Homo sapiens: one gene and its partners. The protein of the gene in region 5 purifies or fractionates together with the protein of the main gene of each other region. This does not show direct contact. Each region holds a gene or a part of one and is shown on either strand. Other genes may lie near its edges.

Region 1 (3,500 bases), on a different chromosome or scaffold from region 5:
ACCCCGAAATCTCTGATCACTTTACCTCAATGGTTTTCTGCTGATCTATTCCAAGGCTGTGCATCAGTCGCAGAACCTGCTCATTAAACTCCCCGATGGATGGCTCATTTTCTTGCTCTTGTGGATAGAGAACAGGTCTCTGGACAGGAACTTCTATGAGCATCCATTTATGCTCCTTGATTTGGGCTATGGTTAGCCGTTTGGATGGGTCTAGGACCAACATCCTTCGGATAAGGTGCTCGCAATCTATAGAAAACACAATGTTACAAAAGTCACAAGAATCACCTTGCACTTCAGGGTTATTTGCTTGACTCATGTGACTTTGTACAAGGGTGTTAATCTTTGTATCCTCTACTGGAAAGCAGAAGGTCAAATGAATAAATGAACACATGCAGGCTACTTATATTTCTCAAGTTCACATGGTGAACAAATACCTAAGAAAAACAGGAGGGTGTAGGTCTATCAGATTCTGGGCTAAAGGAAACTTTCTACTGAATTTCACAACTGAAAATATCTAGAAACAGACTTTGGTTTCCACTAAAGGAAAGAAATAAGCCTCATTCCTAGAACAAGCAAATAATAAATCGATCCTCAGTCATATCTAATGCTGATATACTAAGGCTACGTAAGCGAGGCAAAGAGCTCTCCAACGGGCTGCTGCTCTCCTCCACATCACTGTAGCTGAGAAAAGTGTACATAAAATATTACTTACTTCTGACTACACCAAGAAAACCGCACTGCTGCAACTTTGAGCACTAGCATATTCTCTGAGCTGACATGATGCTCTTCACTCACACATAAGGTAACCTCCTGTCACTATATGGCAGGCGCTGTGCTAAGTGCTTTACACAGATTATGCCTATTTATTATATTATTATTGGAGACAGGGTCTCAGTCTCTTGCCCAGGATGGAGTGCAGTAATGCAATCACAGCTCACTGTAAGCAATCCTTCTGCCTCAGCTTCCTGAGTAGCTAGGACTACAGGTGCATGCCACCACACCCGGCTAATTGAAAAAAAACTTTTTTGTAGAGACAGGGTCTTGCAATATTGTGCAGGCTGGTCTCCAACTCCTGGCCTTAAGAGATCCTCCCGCCTCAGCCTCCCAGACCACTGGACTTACAGGTATAAACCACTGCACCTGACTGACAGATTAATTTAATTAAACCTTACAACACCCGTGCGGTAGGTGCTATTGTTATTTCCATTTTATAGATGGGGAAATTGAAGCAGATAGAGAGGAGACAAAACTTGTGAAAGTCATATGGCCAGTAACCAGTGGACTCAGGATTAAAACCAGGCAGTCTGGTAGTCTGCCTTCACAGTCCATGCTCTTAACTATGAAGAGTTATTATTTCTACTCTTAGTAGAAAGAACAGAGTTAAGAATGATAACCAAAATGAAACTAAGGGGTAAACTTAACTGCTATCTAGGTAACAGCTCAATACACGACAGGCAGGGATTATGGCATATCATCTGAATTTAGCAGAGTTTTGCCAGTTTGGCTTTTTATTTAATTAAAAAAATTTTAATTTTATAAAGTTCATTTCATATTGGAGTAAAATGGTTGTGAATCTGTATCTACAAAGGGCTTCGTTAAATCTAAAATAAACCTGGGACATTTATAGACCCAGAATGAATGAGAAGACATGCTGCTCTTAATCTGGGAAATGCTGTGTGTTTAGTTACAAGTAGAAGGCTGGAACCTGTCTCGCCTACATAAAGGAGGTTGCTTCTTTCTATAGCTTTTAACCTACAGCTCAGTCACTTTATTTGGCACCCAAACTCTTAGAAAAAAAGAAGCTTTTACCTAGGCATTTCACTTGGAGCACTAACACTGTAAAACACCATTAATAAGATGAAAAGTTGATTACCTTCTGACATGAAATACGGAATCCGGAATCTTCCTTCCAGAACCCTCTGCCTCAAAATTGGAAGAGTCGGTCCATCAAAGGGCAGAGCTCCACAGACAAGGACATAAAGAACAACTCCCATACTCTAGGGAAGAAAACAATGCAGAGACTTTTCTACCAAGAACGTCAAACACTCTTTGTTTTCCTGAACATCCCCAGGGCTCTTGAAATCATATGGACTGAAAAATTCCTGTCTGGATTTATTATTTTCTCAGAATTTGAAAAAAATCCAAAACCCTGACTACTACAATAAGTATCTTATAATAAATACCAAAGAATTTGAATCTGATAATTTTGATTACTACTTAACTTTAAATTACTGCTGATATTAGGATGACAACACCTATCCTTAGAAATTCTTTCCTAGGGATCCATTTCAAGATGCTCTGAGTAATTATAGTCCAGTGGATGGGGAAAATATGAAATACTGCTTATGTGTTAAGTACCAGGAGCTTCTAAGATGGGCCAGAACACCAAGTATTATCAGTATAGATGCATTTAACAACACAGCAAAGCAAAGCAGTACCCAGATGTCCAGCTGTGGTCCTTCATACTGCTGCCCTTCAAAGACTTCTGGGGCTGCATAAGGGGGGCTGCCACACCATGTTGCCAGCAGTTCACCACTTTTAAAGAAATTTCCAAAACCGAAATCTATTAGGATGGAAATAAATGTTATTTTCATCTATGCTCTCAAACTATACTGCATTTCTCTGTAATAAATTTTCTAATATGCTATATTAACAATATCACTACTATTTACTGTGAGGACTGGGATGGCATCTTATCTTGTGATGTTTCCCTGGCATTAGCACAATGACTAGCAAATAGTACTCAAGGAATGTTGCTGAATGAATGTGTAAATGAATCAAGTTTTCTTCCCAAAGCGAGTAAGTGAGAGACTGGAAAAATACTTTATATCATGTGAAAGAAAATCAGCCTTAAAGTGGACAACCCAACTAGTATTTGATAATCTTAGAATTTCAATTACCTGATGACTGCTAAAGAGCTCTTTATCTTAAATGGTCTATAAGGAAAGAAACAAATGAGTAAAGCTCTAAGACATTCACCTAAACACAACTGAGTGACTGGCTGCCATTACCCCAGATATATAACCCTTGAAGGCAACTGAGTGCAGTGTTTCCTAAGTAACAACCCTCTAAGTGTTGGTCCACATATCCTGTTTTAGGCAGATAACCATCTGAATAGCTCATTAACATATGATGGCCACATAGCCCAGCCACAAGCCACCTATCACCATCACTTATTTACTAATTTATGGATCGCAGTGGCATTATAGTTCAAAACAGTTAATGGCCTTCTCCTTATGATCTTAGCCATACTGACTCTACAGTTTTGATACAGAGAATGCACTCTGGAAACACTACTTAGATGCCTTCAACATGCATTAAAAAATTTAGTAAGTATTGTTACAAATGCAAGTTCATACCCTTTTGCTAAGCCTTTATAGTCTCATATTCTTACCGAAGAAACAAATACCTATTATCTTGTTAAGTTATACTCATGCTGTCTTATGTTGCTACATACTCCTGACTGAAGAGCCTGTCTCAGTGACAGGAACTGGCTCTCC
Region 2 (3,500 bases), on a different chromosome or scaffold from region 5:
TGTTCCTGGGGATGTGTCCTACTAGAGAAGCTGTTACACGAGTGGTGCCAGGGGAAGCTGCTAGGTCCTGCTGGCCATTGTGCACGCCAGGAGCCAGGGTTTGGTGAAACTGCACAATTGACAGGAGCCAGATGCTATAGAAACCACGGGTGTTACAGACAGGAACTTGCTAAATGAGCATACCACAACCAGGAATCAAAACCTCTCTTCCTACAGTGTATGTTCAGTGACTTCCTGACGAAGCTTAACATTGTTTCAATTGGCAAAGGAAAAATATTCGAAGGGTACAGATCCATGTTCATGGAGCCAGCAAAAAGGATGAAGAAGAGCTTGGACACAACCGATAACTGGCACATCCGTCCAGAACCCTTCTCCCTCTCAATCCCTGTACACTGCGGGTTTCTCCAAATGCCTATTGTCTATGATTTGTTTTGTCCATCGTTCTTAGTCACGGCTTAGTTCAGGTTCTTGCCATCTTTCACTTGTTCCATCAGCCTTCTCTCTCATCCAGTCTAGTTTCTTTGTTTGTTTGTTTTATCATTTTTAAATTTTTTGTAAAGACAGGGTCTTGCTTTCTTCACCAGGCTGATCTCGAACTCCTGGCCTGAAGCAGTCCTCCCACCTCAGCCTCTCAAAAGTGTTGGGATTACAGGCTCGAGCCACCATGCTAGGCCAGTCTATCTTCCTTAGTTCTCCATTTTCTTCTATAAGACAGAACTAATCATGTTACTTAGAGAATTAAATTCAAACATGGCTCTTCACAGTTTGGCCATAACCTATCTCTTTAATTTTTTCTTTCCTTGAATTTTTTGAGATATTCCAGACCCTTGGATGGCTTTTTGTTTGCCCCCGTCCCTAAGCCGCCTTGATCATTTTTAATAGCTTAAAAAGTACTTTTAAGTATTTTATTTCATCATGCCTTTAACTGTCTTTTACTATGTGCTGTCATGTTGTATGCTAGGATACGTAGATGAGTAAGGCATGATCTCTGCCTTTGATCCTTACTATTAGGAAATAAGGTGTATTTTATAGTTATGTTAGTATTGAGAAAATGAATTCTAAGAATATGAGTTATAGCTAATTTAAAAAGTACCGTATTCCCAGACATCAGTCCAGAGCTATATAATCCGTGTCCATGCCTCTTTTAAAAAAAACTTTATTTTTAGAGACAGGGTCTCCCCTTTGTAGCCCAGGCTGAAGTGCAGTGATGCTGTCATAGCTCACTGCAACCTCCAGCTCCTGGGCTCAAACATTTCTCCTGAGTAGCTGGTGCTGCGGGTGCATACCACCATGCCCAGCTAATTTTTAAATTTTTCATCAAGATGATGTCTTACCATGTTGCTCAGGCTGGTCTCAAACTCCTGGCCTCAAACGATCTTCCCACCTTAGCTGTTTTGGGTTTGAGTAACATGTAATTGTTACTTGCCTTTAAGTGCCTCTCTTTCAGCTCATGTGGACAAGAAAATAATCCCTATCCTGTTGTTTAAAAGTGGGTATACACACATTTTTGTGATTTTTAGACTTTTTTGCCTGATTTTCACACAGTTTTGACTTTAATTTTCTTCTTTATTAGAAGATATGGGTAACTTTAGAACCTCTGAGTTCAAGGAAGGATCTAAGCAATGAGGCCAGAGGAGTGAGATGTCCTATGGTAACCAAGCATACCATTTCTTTGTCAAGTGGGCTTTTGTTTATGGCTGCTTAGGGGCTTAAAAGCTCCATGGACTGGTGAGGATTATCATTTGAATGGAATTTCCCCAATTCAAGAACCTTACTATTATCCTCCAATCAGTTCTACACTGTTGGGGAAAATCCCCTGGACCTTATATAACATACTTTGTAACCCTGCAGTTAGTTACTCTTACACTCTTGTCATTATAAATGCTTGATCAATAGTTGATAGACTAGCTCTTGATCAGAGTACCCTTGTATGGAGAGAAGGAAAAAATGCCATACATTTCACTTGATTCTGTGAACCATAATGCTTAGGACAGTAGTGGTTTGGGTTTGATTTAAAAAAAAAAAAAGTTTTTCTCATTCATGCTGAAATGTCATCTCTTTATTTAAGGATACCATTAGGAATATAATTTTTTAACCTATGTCAAACCTCATATGACTGATCTCAGTAAAACGAACTGTGAAAATATTTGCATCAATTTATTTTTAAATATTAAAAAAAGGAAATATATTTGTTAGACTTTTAAAATCTGATTGTTTTAACTGATAATATGTACTCCTTAGGTTAAATATCTTGATAATATTAATGCATACCTGGTTGACCCAATCTTTTACAGCCTTCACTTAACTTAAGGGACCTTGGATTATCTGAACTAAAAATTGGACAGATTGATCAGCTGGTAGAAAATCTACTTCCTGGATTTTGTAAAGGCAAAAACATTTCTTCCCATTGGCATACATCCCATGTCTCTGCACAATCCTTCTTTGAAAATAAATATGGTATGTTAATGTGTTTTTTGTTCCAATTAAATATTTTAGCACTATTAATAATTATAGATACCATTTCTTAGCTTTCACAGTAGCGTTTATTGTGGGCTGGGTTCTTTCCTGAAGTGTTTTTTTTTTGTTTTTTTTTTTGCAATTTTTCATATTGAAATAGTACCAGATTTACAGGAAAGTTGCAAAGATAGTACAGAATTTTGCTTCCACTAATTTTGGCATCTTACATAATCATGTTACATTTGTTAAAACTAGGAAATTAACATTGGTACAATAATTTTTTTTTTGAGACGGAGTCTCCTTCTGTCAGCCAGGCTGGAGTGCAGTGGCACAATCTCCGCTCACTGCAAGCTCCGCCTCCCGGGTTCACACCATTCTCTTGCCTCGGCCTCCCAAGTAGCTGGGACTACAGGCGCCCGCCACCACGCCCGGCTAATTTTTTGTATTTTTAGTAGAGATGGGGTTTCACCGTGTTAGCCAGGATGATCTTGATCTCCTGACCTCGTGATCCACCCTCCTCAGCCTCCCAAAGTGCTGGGATTATAGGCGTGAGCCACCGTGCAGGCCTAACATTGGTACCTTATTTTTAACTAAACTACAGACTATTTGAATTTCAACAAAATTTGTTTTCACCAAATCACTAGTTCTCTGCAAGTGTCCTTTTTCTTTTCCAGGATCTGATCCAGCATACCACATTGCATTTAGCAGAATGGGGGGGCGTTGTTTGTTTTAATTTTAGGTGACACACATTTAATTCCAGGAAACATACTTAATCTTTGAGAATACATTGATTAAAAAAACAGTTGTTATCCCTTTTGTGGAATGTCTACATTTTTTTTTACTTGAATCTCATAACAGTATGGTAGTATAATAAGTGGGTTCATACTAGTCTGAAAAGGGATGTCAACTTTATGAGTTTTTCTTTGGATGGCACTTAAACAGGCCATAAAAATCCAGGAACAAAATAGCAGGTTTGACTAGTTTATAATGAAGGTTTGATTTGAAGCTGTCCTTTGCATAAACTTAATTCATTAATTCTTGAC
Region 3 (3,500 bases), on a different chromosome or scaffold from region 5:
GGGAACAATGTGGCTCTCCGGCTGCCCATGAGAAACCTAAACCTAACACAAACACATTAACTCCGGGGTTTCCAAGACTGAAATTTCCTTTTACCCGCTCTACCCCCCAGCCAAATATATTAGAGATTTGTAACCAGAATATGTCAACTGAGTCATCAAAACCTTATTAGAGAATTTAGAAGGTATCAGTATAGTTTCTTTATCCAAGAAAAGCACGTACATAAGTTCTACCCAAAAAGAACGAAACCAAATAGAAAAATTTGCCCATGATTACACATCTAAAATTTGTCAGAATTAATGTACTGATAAATATGTTGTAATTAAAATATATGATTAATATATTCCAGTTACATTTTCTCAAGTCTGTTGGAAAATATATGTGAAGTATTAGGTTGGCACAAAAGCAACTGAGGTTCTTGCCATTGAAAATAAAGGCCAAAACCACAATTACTTTTGCGCCAACCTAAATATATAGTCTGAAATGGAATAATAAATAGTATTAAATAATTAATAGTACCAAGCACAATGTCTTTCATAAAGTAGGCATTCGACAAGTTTACCAAACACATAGACCTATATATTCTACTTCGGTCATATCTAAGTATATTTTATTACTCTGAGTAGACCATTAAACACACACACACACACACCTTCCTCCCAAAATTCACTAGGCGAAACATCTAAAGGTAGGCAAAGAATACTATTTAGTATTTTGGTCATAAAATGTTTTCTGAAAGAAATGAGAATCTTTAAAACTGTGCTTAAGGAGCTACAGGATGAAAAATGCAAATACCTGTGAACACATAGACACACATTCGCCAGAATAAACAAAATCTGCTCAACCACCAAGGCCAATGTCTAGAATTTGTAAATATCCAAATGCGACACTTCATTTTATAAGTAAAAAAGACATGACAAGTAAAAGGGCAAGTAACAATTTATTCAGAAATTAAATATCAGCATTCATGGATTTGGCCTAATAGGACTAGCATAAGTTTGGTCCAATTTCCTATATATGCACTGATGATCCTAACAATGATCTGGAGTTGATGAAGAACTCCAGTGTGATATATGAATGGTATGATGTAAATGTAAGTATACTATATGAGAAAGTGAAAACTTATTAACCCCTATGGAAACTTCTAGTTAACTAAAATAATTCATTCTCTAATAATTTCGCATAAATAGGAATTTACCCTGTTATTTTACTAAAATTATCAATTTTATTGATAATTTAAATATTAGTAATGCACTTTATAGATGAAATGTTTTACTTTCCAACTTCCTCAAACTTTGGTATAGAGATGGTACATGTAAATAAGGAAATACAGAATTAGCAATTAAAAAAATCAAAGTACTATCTCCTTTACAATTAAATGAGGTAGCACATGGTAGCCAAGTCTAAAATATCCAAATCCCACATATGATTGTTAATCACTAAGTCTTGTTTTTCCATGTACTATAGATCCTTTGATAGTTTCAGCTTCCATTTGCATCTCAAGATAATAGTGTAAGATACAGGATAAAAAATTCATATATTCAACTTCACTACTTTTTATACATTCTCGTTGAAGTTTTGGTAGAAAAGAAAGATGTAATCCTTGGTGAAATAAGGTTACAAATGACAGTTGTTCACTGATGTAATTTAGTTAAAAGTTAAGAATCAGAGATTTTCTAAAATTTTTGCTTGGTCTTAAAGGTTAAGCATACCAAAATACAACTGGCAATCTCCAACTTGCAAATATCATTGTTTCAAAAATTCATTTTTATATATTAATTGATTGGCAGCCAAAGAATATTTTCCAATATTTTGAAGGACCATTAACTCTCTAGGTCAATCTAAAAAGCCCCCTATGGTTTAGACCACACTTGACATATAAAATATAAACCTAATAGTTTGATATGATTCCCCCATATCAAACTACCATTTATAACATTGTTTTTCTTTATTTTTATTTTTTAAAAAGTAGAGATGGGATCTCAATGTTGCTGTTTTTATTTATCTATTTATCTAATCCTGAAATCAGTTAGTGATTGTCTCCCATAGGTGTCTATCTCCAAAAAAGGGACATGGGGCACCAATTCTGACATTTACTTAATGTCCTTTACATTCTGAAGTGGGCTGCAGGATAGAAACTTCCTGTGGTGAATAAAAAGAATGGCGTTACGAACTCCCGTCATTCACATCCTTTCCATTTCATGGCATAATATTCAAATTTATTTGAATGCTTATGAAGATTTTCTTTAAAAAAAAAAACTCACAAGATCAATTGAAAGGGCAAAATAACAGTATTTTATCAATACTCCCCTGGCCCCCATTACCTCCTATTTTCTTCCACAAACTAATTAGCTTTATAGACCCAGGTTATTCTTCATTCCCATCTCACATTTAAGAGATACAAAATTTTCAAAAATATCACAATTTTAAAAGTTAAAGTATAGGGAACTTATTAATTAAAATGAAGAAATTACTCCAGTCACATATTCCTGCTGAATCTTTATCTTTCATAACACTTTTTAAGACTGGTGATTAGAGGCTAGCAAAGGATTTTCATAAACTAAACAGATAGTGAATCAATAAAAACTGGAAAACTTGCAATTTACTGTGTTTAGGAATGGGGTCTAAGCAACAATCTAATCAAGAATGAAAGCAGTCAAAAGAAAGACATTTAAAATAACCACAGTAGTAATTTTCACACCAAGTATGGCAGTCTCTAAGTTAATGTTATTTTAAATACGTTTCAGTTTGGAATGACTAAACCTGTTAATAAAAACATGAAAATATTATGACATTTAGCTGACAGCACACACAATAAACCTCTGTTACAAAGTGACCAAGTCATAGTATACAAAATATACAACCTATAAACCCAGAAAGTTCCACAGTAAGTATACAGAGGAGACACAGGTTGGTTTCACCCTTATCAAAAATTTGATTCAGATGGTAAGTAAAACATGGTTCCAACATGGAAAAACAATAACTCTGTGGTCTCTTATTGAATAAGTAATATTAGAAAGAAGGTAGACACAGGGAAAAGAGGCCTGTTAGTGTGGCCACCCCCACCTAGACCAATCTAGAGAGCTGAATGTGAGTCCAGGTTGAGTAATCTTCAAATGGCACCGAGCCCTCACACCTTCTATACTTATAAAATGAGAGGGTCAGCCTGGTCACAGTCTAAAGTCTAAACCTTTAATCTTTTTTTTTTTTTTTTTTTTTTTGAGATAGAGTCTTGCTCTGTCACTCAGGCTGGAGTGCAGTGGCATGATCTCAACTGCAACCTCCGCCTCCTGGGTTCAAGCAATTCTTGTGCCTCAGCCTCCCAAGTAGCTGGGATTACAAGCACCCACCACCACACCAGCTAATTTTTTGTATTTTTTGTAAAGACGGGATTTCACCATGTTGGCCAGGCTGGTCTCGAACTCATGGCCTCAAGTGATCTGCCTGCCTTGGCCTCCCAAAGTGCTGGGACTGTAGGCATGAGCCAGGGCACCCAACCTAA
Region 4 (3,500 bases), on a different chromosome or scaffold from region 5:
TGATTTTTCAAGCTTTGATTACATTGTAAACTTTTTTTTTTTTACAAACATGGTAAATTTATTAAAGAAATTATTTCCTTTAAAGTATCAGATTTATAAGAACAATAACAGCAACAACACACAAACTTATTGGATGGTTTTATTTAAAACTTTTTGGTGTATTTTATCATTTCTCTGACTGCATATGGAATAGTGATGCAGATACATAGTATATCAGTGTGCATTGTAATTGAATTTTCACTGTAAGTTAAATTTACCTTGAGCCTCTAAATAAATAGTTATGTAAATTCATCCTGCCAAAAGATGTGATGGTGCCAGCTATAGAAGTACCAGAATAGTAACAGCTGTCTGGTGCAGATTTGGGCTAAGCATCACATCAAGAAGGAATCACATGTCTGTAGTCTCTAGAGAAACAGTTCTTGGCACCTAATGGTTTTTTAACTTTAATCAGTACAATAAAAGTTGCAGTACTTTAGGACCAGAATATGATACACCTTTTAAGTCTATTTTAATCTATAATGTCTCTCTTTTTCTTTTTTTTCTTGTAATAATTTACTTGCTAAAGAAACTTTTTTTTTTCCTTTGTTTCTTATAGTCTGGCTCTTGCTGATTGAATTCCTTTGGTGCAGTTTAGCATGTTCCTCTGTGTTCTGCATCTCCTGTAGGTTGGTATTTGGATATAGAGGGGATCTAAAAAACATTTTTTCTTGTTGCTTTATGTTCACATGATAGGTGATGTTTGTGTCTTCCATCAGGAGGCACATCATACCTGCTTATCTCTCTTTCCAGTACATTAACTAGTTTATTTTGATTCACTTTAGTTTTAACAATTCAAGGGTTTTTTAGAGAGGATGGTGTAGAGCATAAGATAGGAGATCTAGAGTGCGGTAATCTGGATTCAGGCTTTGACTCTTGGCCTACTAGTTTTGGAATTTTGGAAAATCACTTCCCCTGTGTATTAAGTTCCTTATCTGCTGGGGATGATTATGCCTACTCCTAGGATTGTTTAGAAGATTAAAAGAGTTAACATATGGAAAAGAACCTTGTACAGAGCCTAGCATGTAGCAAGTGGTCACTAAATTTTAACTTTTGTTGTTTTGTGAATTTAAAAATATTCTAAAATAATCTAAAGGATAGATTATCTTGATTTGTGAGGAAATTAAAATTTGGATAACTATTTTTTTTGGCTCACCTGGGGTTTTTTTAGGGAAAAAGTAAGTAAATTATTCAGCTGAGGTGAGTAGCTCTCTGTTGTCCCCATCACAGTGAATAAATAGTTACATTTAGTAACCACTCTTCACAAACTGAATTTCAAAAGTGATTTTTGTCAATGCCTCAGATGTTGGTGTGTGTTCATTTTAATTGACCTTACCTAATGTTGGCAAGTTGCCCCCTCATTGAACAGATTTGCAGTCCATGAGAAATACTTTCCTGTTTCATAGGGAGCTTACTGTTAATATTTTTATTTTACAGTGTAATGTTCAAGCTCAGAAATGCCTTATGTGGATCGTCAGAATCGCATTTGTGGTTTTCTAGACATTGAAGAAAATGAAAACAGTGGGAAATTTCTTCGAAGGTACTTCATACTGGATACCAGAGAAGATAGTTTCGTGTGGTACATGGATAATCCACAGGTTTGTAAAATCCCAAGGATTATCTTTTAAAAGCACAGAAAGTTGTATTTAAGTATTTAACATACTATACAGGCTTTAGATTTGTCTTCTTAAGCAGTATATTTTTAGATTTATTTCTACTGGCTGTCCTCTCTGCCCTGCACCCCTGACCTCTACTGTTTTGTTTGAATTTCAGAAGGTGAAACTAAGTTTATTTGATAAAAATTAATGCTTCTGTATATATTTTTCCCTCGAGAGAGAAATACTCTCTCTGGTGGCAAATTAGGTTTTAGAAAATTAGAACTTGAGTCACAGAAAAAAATAACAATTGAAGCTGTCCCAAAAATAAGAAATACTTTTTTTGTAACATGTATTTCAAACAACAGCTAAAATAAAGACCAGGGATAGATGATTTTCTTGCATTAAGGAGGCTTAATACCAGGGTCCCTTTAGTGAGATTAAATTTAGGTTTAAGATGCTGCATCTAGGATAGAGACTATTATTTTTAAATAAATAAATGACTTAACCACATGATACTCTTGCACATATGTAGTCCTTTTATTTTGTAGTGTCAGATTTGAGTCAGTCATTGTAATGCCATCCATGAACTGAAATGCAGTTTGATTTTATTGTTGCCTTGCAAAACACAGGGGTAAATGCTACAATTTAAAAAATTGGAATCCCAGCCTTAAGAGGCCTGAGATTAGATATCATCTGTGAAGTAGTTTTAAACTTTCAACTTTCTCTACTTTTTTTTTTTTTTTTTTTTTTTTTTGAGATGGAGTCTCTTATCACCCAGGCTGGAATGCAGCGGTATGATTTTGACTCACTGCAGCCTCTGCCTCCTGGGTTCAAGTGATTCTCATGCCTCAGCCTCCCGAGTAGCTGGGACTACAGGGGTGTGCCACCACACCTGGCTAATTTTTTGTATTTTTAGTAGAGACAGGGTTTTTCCGTCTTGGCCAGGCTGGTGTTGAACTCCTGATGTCAGGTGATCCTCCAGCCTCAGCCTCCCAAAGTGCTGAGATTACAGGCATGAGCCACCGCGCCCGGCCTTTTGGAACTTTTTATCTTCAAATAAAAATTGGTGTAGAAGTTAAAAATGGGGTTGTATGTTGCAAGGAAGTATGTGCAAAGCAAGGGATGAATCTCTAGCAGACTTCTAAGCTGATTTTTGTCCAGTAGGCTTCTCGTGTGGGTGAGGAATGGAAGGTCTAGGGAAGAGCAGAGACTTATACAAGGTTCTGTTCTGTTTCACAGAGCAGGAACTAGGTCTGCTGATAAGTAGTCTAGTATTCTTCACTATATACTGATTTTAGATTAGACAAGATATATATGTGTCTATAGTAGATACTAATGTGTGTATGTTTATTTATGTAGAATTTGAGTTGTAAGGGACCTCTCCTCACCCATATGAGCCATTGCACAGTTCTGCCTATTTTCTCTCCCTGATTTTTCTCTCTCTTCACAAGGTCTGGTTGACATATGTATGGTTTCTCCTGAATTTTACTTGAAGCTCCTTGATTATTTTTCTGTGTTCCTACATAATAGATTCTTCTTGTCATTCTTCCTTTATCAGTACTACCCATTTAGCAGAGCTAAAAGGAGTTAAGTACAAAATAGAATATATTTATTACCCTGAATAAAACTTGAACTTGGAATTCAGAGGAAAGTTACACAGCTAGTAGAAGGAGTTGAAGTCTTCATGGAAGTGGTAACATTTGAAATTGACTTAGAAGTTTGGATATAATATTGGCTAAGAGATGGAAAAGTTGAGTATTCCAGTGCTCAAAGAACAGTGTGGGCAGAGATCAAAGCAAGAGAGCCTATGGCGTGTTTGGAGACTAGATCACTTTGGCTATAGCACTCAGCTAGGTCTTGTCCACA
Region 5 (2,651 bases):
TCGCCTTCTCCAAGGCCCTGCCCCGCAGCTAAGCCAGCACTGGTAGGCACCAGGGGGCTGAGAGCACCGTCTGGATGAGGCCAGCCCTGGGAATGCTGAGGGGCTGGGCTGGGCTTTGGGAGCCTGGGAGGGGACAGGTCAGAAGCCTGGGAGGAAAGCTGGGACTGGGGCTGAAGCAACCTCCCTCACCCCCAAACCTGTTTCCCCTTTTGTCTAGAGATGCGTGGTGCCTCCAGGACCGCTGCGGGTGGTAACCAGTGGAAGACCCCAGCCCCCAGGGAGAGGAACCCGTTCTATCCCCAGCCATGATAATAAAGCTGCTCTCCCAGCTGCCTCTCAGCTCCTTGTGTTGCACGACTTCCTCCTTAGCGTAGCTCAGAGGCGGCCAGAGAGGGCAGGGGGACAGGACCCTTCCTCTGGGACCCCTTCCTGTGGGCAGGGTGAGCAGAGCCTCCTGTGCTCCAGAGCCAGAGGTGCCCCCATGAAATGCCAGGCAGGGATGCAAATGAAAACAGAAGCATTTAATAGATGTGTGGACAAGAACGGGCAGAGAAGGTGCTGCGGGGAGGGGGTAAGTGCAGGAGCAGTCTGGAGAGGCACATTTGCAAGGCAGGGGAGTCCCACTTCCAGGAGTGCTCTGGGCCACTCAGCCTGCCTACTGTCTCCCAACAGCTGAGACGGGAGGCTGGCCCATCCCTACCTTTCTCGCCTGTAGCCTCAGGAGGAAGTAATTCCTTCCACTAAGTTGCAGGCTGGAGCAGCCCAGAGTGGCAGCAGCTGCGGACACAGGCTCACGGATGTGGGAGCCCTTACACCTGCTCACAGCCCTTCAGTCTGTCCTTGCAGCATGTGGAGGGATGGTGGGGAGGGGCTGCTCTCAGGATAGGGATAAAGCAATAGCCCAGTGTGCAGGGCCAGTGACCAGTGTGAAGCAACTAAGACGAGTGTGGGGGCAGAGAGGGGAACTGGGGGCAGCGAGGCCACCTGCCAGGCTGTCCTGGGCCATAGGCCACGTTCAGAAGACGAAGGAAGAGGTGGGGCCCGCAGAGCTGAGTACCTGCTCCGCCTGGGCCAGGCTGTCGCTGGCCTGGCGGTCCAGGTCCCAGCACTCCTGCAGTGTGTCCTGGAACTGCCGGCAGGCCTCCTCCAGGATGGAGCTGCTCCGGCTGGGCCAGGACTCCCAGTAGCCTGGCTCCACCCAGGGCTGGGCCTCGGTGGCTCTGGGGCCTGGACTGGAGCTGGGACGCAAGGAGCTGTCCAGGTCTCGGCACAGCTGGTAGAACTCACTACCACGCCCAATCACACGCTCACCGTCGATGACTTTCAGGCCAGGCAGCAGCTCCCGGACTGCAGCCCAGTAGGAGGGGTTGGCACAGAGCGGGTTGCTGAGCCGGGCCAAAGGGTCTCGGAGCCGCAGGTACTCCAGGCACGGTAGCCCAGCCAGACACTGCAGCTGGCCCGGGGTGGCCAGTAGGTTGCCTGCGGCATTGAGACTCTGCAAGTTCTCACAGGTGGCCAGTGGCTCCAGGCCCGTCAGCCGATTGTTGGAGACATTGAGCACAGCTAGCTGGCGCAAGGAGGCCAGCGGGCCCAGGTGGGTGAGCGCGTTGCCTGATAGGTCCAGCCACTCCAGGCCCAGGCACTCTCCCAGGCAGCCCAGGTCAGCCAGTCCCAAGCCACGCAGCTTCAGTAGCAGGATGGACTCCAGGGAGAACTCGCCTGTGCGTGACTTCAGCAGCTGGGGTGTGATCTGCAGTCCGCCAGCCTCTCCCGGCTTCTCCGCTGGAGGGTCCATGAGATGGAAGTCGGTTGGGATGGCCTGGGCCCTGGCAGGACTGTCACAGGGTTCCACTGGGGGTCAGCTGGTGCTCGCCCTGGCTCTACCCAGGCCAGTGCCAGGAGGCCTGGTTCCGATGCCCTGCTCGAAGCCAGCCAGTCCCTGAGGAGAGACAGTCAGTCAGCAGGCAGCACTTTCTGTGTCTTACGCAGCAGGTGACGGCAGGGAGTCTGACCCTGCTTTTACCATGAAAACCAACAATCTCAGCCAGGCAAGACCTGAAGACCAAGCTGGGACACAGGCCACAAAAGCCATCTGAGTGACAGGGATGGGGTGCAGGCCCAACCCAAGGGGAGCAGCCCAGACTGGCCCTGGCTGGTTAGGGCCATGCTGGATGGATTCAGGCCCAATATTACCAGTTCTTCCTGTCAAATCCAAACTAGGGGCAAAACATTATTTTACTTTTTCCGTAACCACTCACGATCCATCCCTATTAGTTTTGGGGTGTTTTTTAAACCGTTATTTTTGAATAGGCAATAGGTAACCACCATCACCAGTTTCTTTTGTTTTCTTTCTGGGATAATCAATGTATATGCAATGCAAACGAGAGCACATGTGCCTTGTTTGATTCACTCAGTATTACTGCAATTCTTTCTAACAGCAATGAATTCAAACTTGTTTCCAGATTATATGGGTCAGCTGGTACCTCTGGTTGGAGCTGTAGAGCATAAGAAGTTGGCCTTTAGTCCTGAAGGAGAAAACTGAGGTCAAGGTAGTGAAGGGACAGGGAAGGCTGGGGTAAGTGGCCTGGCTAGGTCGCACACCCTTGCTCTCACTTCACTGCCCGCCAAAGCTAGCTCTTTTGCTCTGGACT
Region 6 (3,500 bases), on a different chromosome or scaffold from region 5:
CTTATTGAAAAAAAACCATACTATTTAAATAAGAATTCAGTTCATGAAAGTTTACAAAATACAACCAATGTACTCTGACTTGTGGTTATATCTTAACTATCTCAACTGTACTTTTCTGGTATGGCCAGACCTTTTGCAAATATTACCATGGTATTTTAATTTTATGATATAAAACAGTAGCAATTTATTAAGTTTTCCATTATAAAAATTAATATGGCAATTCTCAAAATACTGAAAAAACTGTTTTATGAAAGCAGTACCCACATCACTGCAACGTATTTCCTTTCTCTTAGAAAACATCTTCAAAAGGCACATTTTAATTACTAGTGTTTATATCTAAAGATAGTAGTTTGAGTTTTGAATTTCCAGTCAATTTTCCATTATCTCAAAATTGAGCTAATGGAGGGTTGGAAGAGGTAGGAGAACGCAGGTTTCCAATGAACTCCCTCAGGGCAGCAGAATCCTCATTCATCTCGTCCATGAAGACCAAAAGGAAGATATAAGGGAAAAAGGAATGGCAGATCTGTTTTGCATCCTAATTTAACCTTCTACACAAAATACTTCATTAAAAGCAAATAAACAAACACAAGATAGTAAGCTTAGAAAACAAAAGGCCTAGACCACAAATTACCCAGTTAAGCCCAAGTGGTGACATTGGTTTTAAGCCTCAAGAAAATGAAACTTCTGCTTCTGTAAAATCACATCTTCATCAATTGAATTTAAATCACTTAGTGCATTAACAATGTTACAAATTCCAATAATGTCAGACATATGGATGATATTCAAAATAAAGTACAAAAATACATTTCAAAATCAAATATAAATGACTTTATGGTTATCTGCCATGCTCCCCTTTAATTTGGCCTGATAGTCTACATTTGACTGTAATTATAATAACATCTGTAATTTCAAGTACAATAGTACAATCATAATAATTTTGAAGAACGTATGACCTAGGACCCCAAAATGCAATCCAATATACAATTTGGAGTATGGTTTACTTTTTAGTGAAGTTTAATACTAATTGAAGTACTAAATTGAACAAGGCCAGTACTCTGAAGTACTAATCTCAAGTATTTGATCCCATGTAAGAAACAGAAGGGAATTTTTAAGGCAATTTTGGTATTCCAAAATATTGGGGATCTACCTTAATTTTCTATTATTCCCCTCAAGTCTCAATTGAATATTTCCATTTTTTAAAAAAAGGGGAAATTTCTTAGGTTTTTTCCTCACTACAACAAAGTAATTCACCAAAAATATTCTCAAGTACAAAAACCAAAATGGTCCTCTATTACTTAGCCAAGATATAATTTTCTGGTCCCTAATAATGGTCACTTTAGGAGTACTTATTCAAATTCTAAAATAGCAGCTTTTGAAATTAAGGCAACATTGCTTTATTCTTACCTGTTTTTCTATTAGCTAACTATTTTATTAAAGTTCGTAAGAGCAATTTCAGACGTAGGCATCCTCAAAGGCCTTTTGTAATGTAAGAAGAATTAGCATGAACATTCTTCTCAATATTAAAAGTTATTGTATTCTACTTGGAATTCTAGAGTAATTACAGTCATTCCAGCATGTGTAAAATTACCTTTTAAACTAACAACAACATAAAATACAAATTTTCTACAAAAATACAATATAGGAGATATAGCACTTCTTCCCTGAAATAGAAATTTAATATTTGGACAAAAAACTGTAAACTTTTGGTTACATTCAAAATACAACCTTTTAAAGACTTAAATTGAGGTTTTAGCAACTGGAGCTCCTAACAGCAGATTTATATTACTATGATGTTTTAAAAACATGATAATTCTAAACAGTTTGTTTCTCTTACTCTGACATTTACTACCAGGAGGAAAAAAATGGCTTCCTGCAATTGACAGTCTGGGTAAAGGAATTGCTCAGGTGGACAATCCGACCCTGACTTCCACCTTGACTGCGTTCCACAATCACACAAGGTATCTGTACTAGCTGGAAAGGACTCTTCCCGTCTCTCAATGCCTGAGTAAGGTTTAAGATCTGTGGGAAGAAGAGAGATTTTTACCAATTTAAAAAGATAAAAAGCTTCACTTCACTGACATTTTTTAAACCATTTATTCATTATAATTTTTATTTCATCCATTTATGAGCAACAGAGACTGTGAAGATAAGTACCTGTTATAAATATGTATTATATGAATGTATGTTTACACACACACGCGCACACACACACGCGCACACACACACACACACAATTAGCATTAAATAACTTTTGCCAGATGGTAAGTTTAAAATATTCTAGAATATCCTGCCTATGTCCAGGAGCAATGGAATCAAAGAACGGTAAGTGAAGAGGTCTACATACATATTCAATTTAACATAAAAACTCAACAAATACTGGTTTAAACAGTCTGGTTTTAACTAAATACTTGCCTTATCCATTCATTCAACAAATTTATTGTATGCCTACTATGTGCGAGGTTCTGCTGTAAGTGCTAGGGATACAATAGTTAAAAAAACAAGCAAACTTGCTGCCTTCGTAGAGCTTACACTTTAGCAGGGAGAAGAGTCAATAAACATGAATATGTAAATTATGCCATGTATTAGAAGGTGAAATTGCTATGGGAAAGCATGAAGCAGGGCAAATAGGTTAGAGAATTTGGGAAGGCAGTCATTTCAAATAAAGGTACATTTAAGAGTTTACTCTTAAGAAAAATAAAATTAGGGAAAGTAAAATATATTACATATCATGTTCAAAGATACTCTGGGAATTTCTACTTGGGCATGCAAATAAGGTTATGAAACACAATACATAGATTATTCTGGTCTCTGTTCAGGTCAAATAAAATTATAGCAGTTCATCTTCTTTTTTCCCTGCATATTAGGAAAAATGTCCTTTCTTGTATATTTTAGAAATACAGATTTCTCCTTCAGGTATTTGAAAATATCTAATATATACATCCTATGCATTTCACTGGTTCTTGTAAAGACTAGTCAATAGTGATAAGCATAAATGTTTCCACATAAAGCCATACTAATAAATAAACTTCATAATACTTTAAATAGTATAAACTAGATGGTTGGTTGATTGATTGATTGATTGACTGATTGATTGTAGAGATGGGGTCTTGCTATGTTGCCAGGGCTGATCTTGAACTCCTGGCTCATGCAATCCTCCTGCCTTGGCCTCTTAAAGTGCTGAGATTACAGGTGTGAGCCACCACAGCTGGCCAAACTAGATGATTTTAGTTTGTAGAATATTTGGAGCATTTAACACATCAGGAAAATAGATCTTTACTAGTAACAGTGTTATAGGTTATGTTTATGTTTTAGGATCACTTTTAAGTTCTTCCCTTAACATTTTCTTTTTTTTTGTTTTGTTTTGTTTTGTTTTTGAGACAGGGTCTTGCTCTGTCACCCAGGCTGGAGTGCAGAGTGCAATCACAGTGCACTGCAGCCTCTGCCTCCTGGGCTCAAGCGATCCTCCCACCCCAGACTCCAGAGTAGCTGGGCCTAGAGGC
Region 7 (3,500 bases), on a different chromosome or scaffold from region 5:
GTGTCCATCAAGTGGAGGCACTGGTCCAATCCTCTGGTTCAAGGAAAGGACAGTGAGGCAGGCAGGAAAGCAGCTCTCCACTGCACCTCCCCTGAGCACTTACATGTGGGAGGTTCTATCATGTGCACGCACACACGCACCTCCCCCCTCCAAGGCCAATACATTCACGTATCATGTATTATGGTATGAATTTTGGATTCTATAAGCCTGGATTTGTGTCCCAGCTCTACCAACTATAGCCTCAGTTTCCTCATCTGTAGCTAATGCCCACTGAGGGGCTGCTATGATGTTTAAGCGATGACCTTTGTCAGGGGATTGTCCACCGTGCAGTATCTGCTGTTATCATCCATAAGCATTGGGAGAAGCCTAAACCTTGCAACGGCACTGAGATCCATGTTGTAGGTGTGTGTGAGCAGGTCAGGATGTGCTCTGCAGGCGTGTGCACAGAGGCAAAGTAAAGATGGAGAAACAAGTATGCAAAGTGCAAGTGCCTGGCTCTGATTTTCCAGGGAAGCCAGCACCACGGAGGATATGAGAATATATTCCAACTCAGGTCTTAGAAAGGCAGATGCAGCACTCAGAAACTCTCCATTCAGGACCAACGTCCTGCATCAGAAAGCTCATTTTGTCTCTCCAAGGGGAGCCATGGAAGCGTATACGTTTTTCACGATGAGAACTGAAATGCTTGCTGTCTTCTTCCCAGTCACCTGTGGTCACCTGTGGGGCTTTACTAAGGATACTGTCCTGAGCCTGCTACCTTCCCTCTAGCCAACAGGTGCTTTTTCACTGCCAGCATTTCTCAGCCTCCAGGACAGGCCGAGTCTTGCTCATGGCTCCCCTCCCTCCTCCAGGCCCACAAGCTCCATGTTGGCAGTGGTGGGAGCAGGGATGAGGGCCCAGTGTGGCCCAGGTCTGGGTGCTTCCTCCTCCCAAAGATCAAGTCCTTCAGGGCAACCACCTAATCCTGCTCCAGAAAACAGCAGTGTCAGACTTCTGAGGGGTCGAGGAGCGGGGTTCACAGACACAAGTTCTTAAGAAGATGCTAAAAATGCAAGCTGGCTATGTCTTGCTTTTCTATACAAGTGACTTGCCCCAGCAAGGGGATTCTCAATGGAATGTCTCAGCAGCAAGATGCAGAACTGCCCTAGAGCTAGAATCCAGAGAGCTCAAGGGAAGGTATTAAAAGGGGAATAATAACAACAACAAAAAACAGAGGAGGAGGTTGAAATGTAGCTTTCTTTTCCCCTCCTAAAAGCAAAGCTTTTGGGGTCTGTTTTTACCACCTCCCCCAACCAAAGAGAATGCATTTTTACGAAGCACAAACCTCTTCACTTTTCTGCAGGACCCAATCAGCATAGGCCCACACTAGTTCCTCGTCTAAGCAGTAGGTAAGAAAATCCACGATGTATTCATACAGGTCTGAGCGTGTGGAGTCCTGGACATCGCCATTCACAATGTTCACCCACAACTGGAAAGGAATCAAAAAGAAAAAAAGAAAAAGAAAAGAAAAAACAATCATAAAGGCACATATCTCAGAATTAGTTGAGAAATGGCATATGTTTACTTATTTGGCTTTTTAATACCTTTTAAAGTAGTTGGAAAAACTGTAAATGCTTAAATTTTAGTTTTTTTGGAGAAATAAAGAAATGTAAAAAGACATAGTCCAAGAAATAAAAAAAAAAATTAAGCTCTAGGTTCTTTTATCTTTCTTTCTTTTTTTAACAATAACACAGTAAACAGAATATATGCAGGGAGGTGAATATATTAAAAATGTTTCTTCATGAAATAAAGAAAACGGTCACTGATAACATCTCGACACAGAGAAGATTCACCTACAACCATCAGCCAGGCTCTGTTTCCATCTTCTCCGTCACAGACATTCTTGATTTTGAAGTCCCCTTTGGACTGTGATAGGCAGATGTTGTGCTTTTACAAAAGCTTCAGTGATTCTGTCCCCTGAGTTCACACTGCCTTTTGCACAGGGGGCTCAGGATAGACTCCAGTGATAAAAGCCTTTTGCTTTTTCAGCCAGAAACTTCCCTACCATGTTAAGTGAAGCCTACTTTCAGGACCCCAGAATGAGGCAGCATCACTTGGGGGTAGAAAGGATGACGGTTGCGTGGGTTCCTTCTGCAATACCTGCATGGCGTGCCTCACCCACCCATACACAGCACCACCCCTCCAAGCCACAGCACCAGGAAGGAGCCCAGAAACAGGGGTGGCATATGAATTCTGGAATTCTGATGTCAGCATACGAACATTTTTTATGATACTAGTTTCTTCAACACAGAATTGCTGAAACCAAATAATCACACATACCTTGAAATATGCCATTTTATATAAAATTCTACCACGTATGGAGATTTATCCCATATCACTTCAAGTTTGCAAATCTATCTCTCTACAGCTCTGCTAAAGTTATTACTATACTTATATAAAGCTGTAACTGAGAACACCAGGTTTTTGAAAATGAAAATTTTATCACTGACACCCAAATCTACTCTTGGCCATTGGGTACGTGTTAATTCACCCAACTCCATTTTTTGTTGTTGTTGTTGTTCTGCTCTGCAATCAGGTTACCACAATAGTCTCACAAAGCAATCAAACACTAAATACATGTTCAGCCTTGCCAGAGTCATGAGGTTAACTTTAGCTTGGGGAACATGGCTGATGCTCTTGGCCCCTCACAAAATAAAGCAAAAAGGCACATCAGGAAACAACACGGTGCAGTACAAATGCATAACTAATAACGAAGGGGAGAAAGTCTCCCCCTGAGAGTGTGAGATGAGGCTTTTCTCAAGATCAGTAGCAAGATGTAAGATACAAAATGTGACAATGCTAATAAATCGATGCCATTTTGATTAGGGTGCAGGACCCCTGCCAGGCCAATGGAGCGCGGTTCAGATCCCAGATCTACCACGGACACATGGCCTCGGGCAAGCAACTGGCATGCATCAGCTTTGGTTTTGTCACAGGTGACACAAGGATAATAATGTACCCAGCTCATTGGCAACAGTGATCATCACTAACAGTGGAAATGGTAAATCCGACTATCATTCACTGCCTAAATTTTCTGATAAGGGTAGTGATATATTATGACTTGGAACTCTGTGAGATCATATTTTCATTTCTTAAGTTTTCAAAAACTCAGTCTTGATAATGTTCTTTAAGGAGATGGAAAGACAATGAGAAGAAAACTCTTGGCCAACATTTCTCCAGGAATTCACTTTCTAAAACAGAATCATTTTTATTCTGTATAAAAGGGTGTAGATCAGGCAAAAGTGGTCTCTATCAACTTGTGAATTTTTTTTAAGTAACACTAAGTATTACTTACATGGTGCTGATTTTTAAATCATGTGGAAACCCTTCTAGACTCACCTGAACTGCAGCAGCATCTTGGTTATTATAATGATAGAGCAGTCCAAGTGCAAAATACCTGAAACAGAACAACACGGTAAGTACAACCTCTCCCCATCAGCTCCTGGAGGCGACCTTCACAC

What was found.
Region 1: the proteins of LRRC61 (region 5) and SIK2 purify together in Homo sapiens (affinity purification with mass spectrometry; one large-scale study listed by BioGRID and IntAct). This does not show direct contact.
Region 2: the proteins of LRRC61 (region 5) and YME1L1 purify together in Homo sapiens (affinity purification with mass spectrometry, with the first as the bait; one large-scale study listed by BioGRID). This does not show direct contact.
Region 3: the proteins of LRRC61 (region 5) and FAM184A purify together in Homo sapiens (affinity purification with mass spectrometry; one large-scale study listed by BioGRID and IntAct). This does not show direct contact.
Region 4: the proteins of LRRC61 (region 5) and PLEKHA1 purify together in Homo sapiens (affinity purification with mass spectrometry; one large-scale study listed by BioGRID and IntAct). This does not show direct contact.
Region 6: the proteins of LRRC61 (region 5) and PI4K2B purify together in Homo sapiens (affinity purification with mass spectrometry; one large-scale study listed by BioGRID and IntAct). This does not show direct contact.
Region 7: the proteins of LRRC61 (region 5) and TGFBRAP1 purify together in Homo sapiens (affinity purification with mass spectrometry; one large-scale study listed by BioGRID and IntAct). This does not show direct contact.

Annotation. Positions count from the first base shown.
Region 1 is NC_000011.10:111,699,949-111,703,448, reverse strand, and holds part of SIK2 (serine/threonine-protein kinase SIK2), read right to left. Parts: intron 2,564-3,500; coding exon 2,439-2,563; intron 1,998-2,438; coding exon 1,874-1,997; intron 247-1,873; coding exon 26-246; intron 1-25. UniProt on the Homo sapiens protein: Serine/threonine-protein kinase that plays a role in many biological processes such as fatty acid oxidation, autophagy, immune response or glucose metabolism.
Region 2 is NC_000010.11:27,144,385-27,147,884, reverse strand, and holds part of YME1L1 (ATP-dependent zinc metalloprotease YME1L1), read left to right. Parts: intron 1-216; coding exon of another isoform or gene 217-387; intron 388-2,294; coding exon 2,295-2,457; intron 2,458-3,500. UniProt on the Homo sapiens protein: ATP-dependent metalloprotease that catalyzes the degradation of folded and unfolded proteins with a suitable degron sequence in the mitochondrial intermembrane region.
Region 3 is NC_000006.12:119,068,665-119,072,164, forward strand, and holds part of FAM184A (protein FAM184A), read right to left. Parts: intron 480-3,500; exon of another isoform or gene 383-479; intron 1-382.
Region 4 is NC_000010.11:122,391,708-122,395,207, forward strand, and holds part of PLEKHA1 (pleckstrin homology domain-containing family A member 1), read left to right. Parts: intron 1-595; exon of another isoform or gene 596-665; intron 666-1,473; 5' UTR 1,474-1,493; coding exon 1,494-1,634; intron 1,635-3,500. UniProt on the Homo sapiens protein: Binds specifically to phosphatidylinositol 3,4-diphosphate (PtdIns3,4P2), but not to other phosphoinositides. May recruit other proteins to the plasma membrane.
Region 5 is NC_000007.14:150,336,006-150,338,656, reverse strand, and holds the end of LRRC61 (leucine-rich repeat-containing protein 61), read right to left. Parts: intron 1,940-2,651; 5' UTR 1,796-1,939; coding exon 1,016-1,795; 3' UTR 501-1,015; downstream 1-500. Other genes in the region: RARRES2 (retinoic acid receptor responder protein 2 precursor), read left to right, coding at 1-32.
Region 6 is NC_000004.12:25,275,533-25,279,032, reverse strand, and holds part of PI4K2B (phosphatidylinositol 4-kinase type 2-beta), read right to left. Parts: intron 2,020-3,500; coding exon 1,846-2,019; 3' UTR 1-1,845. UniProt on the Homo sapiens protein: Together with PI4K2A and the type III PI4Ks (PIK4CA and PIK4CB) it contributes to the overall PI4-kinase activity of the cell. This contribution may be especially significant in plasma membrane, endosomal and Golgi compartments.
Region 7 is NC_000002.12:105,274,236-105,277,735, forward strand, and holds part of TGFBRAP1 (transforming growth factor-beta receptor-associated protein 1), read right to left. Parts: intron 3,437-3,500; coding exon 3,379-3,436; intron 1,469-3,378; coding exon 1,325-1,468; intron 1-1,324. UniProt on the Homo sapiens protein: Plays a role in the TGF-beta/activin signaling pathway. It associates with inactive heteromeric TGF-beta and activin receptor complexes, mainly through the type II receptor, and is released upon activation of signaling.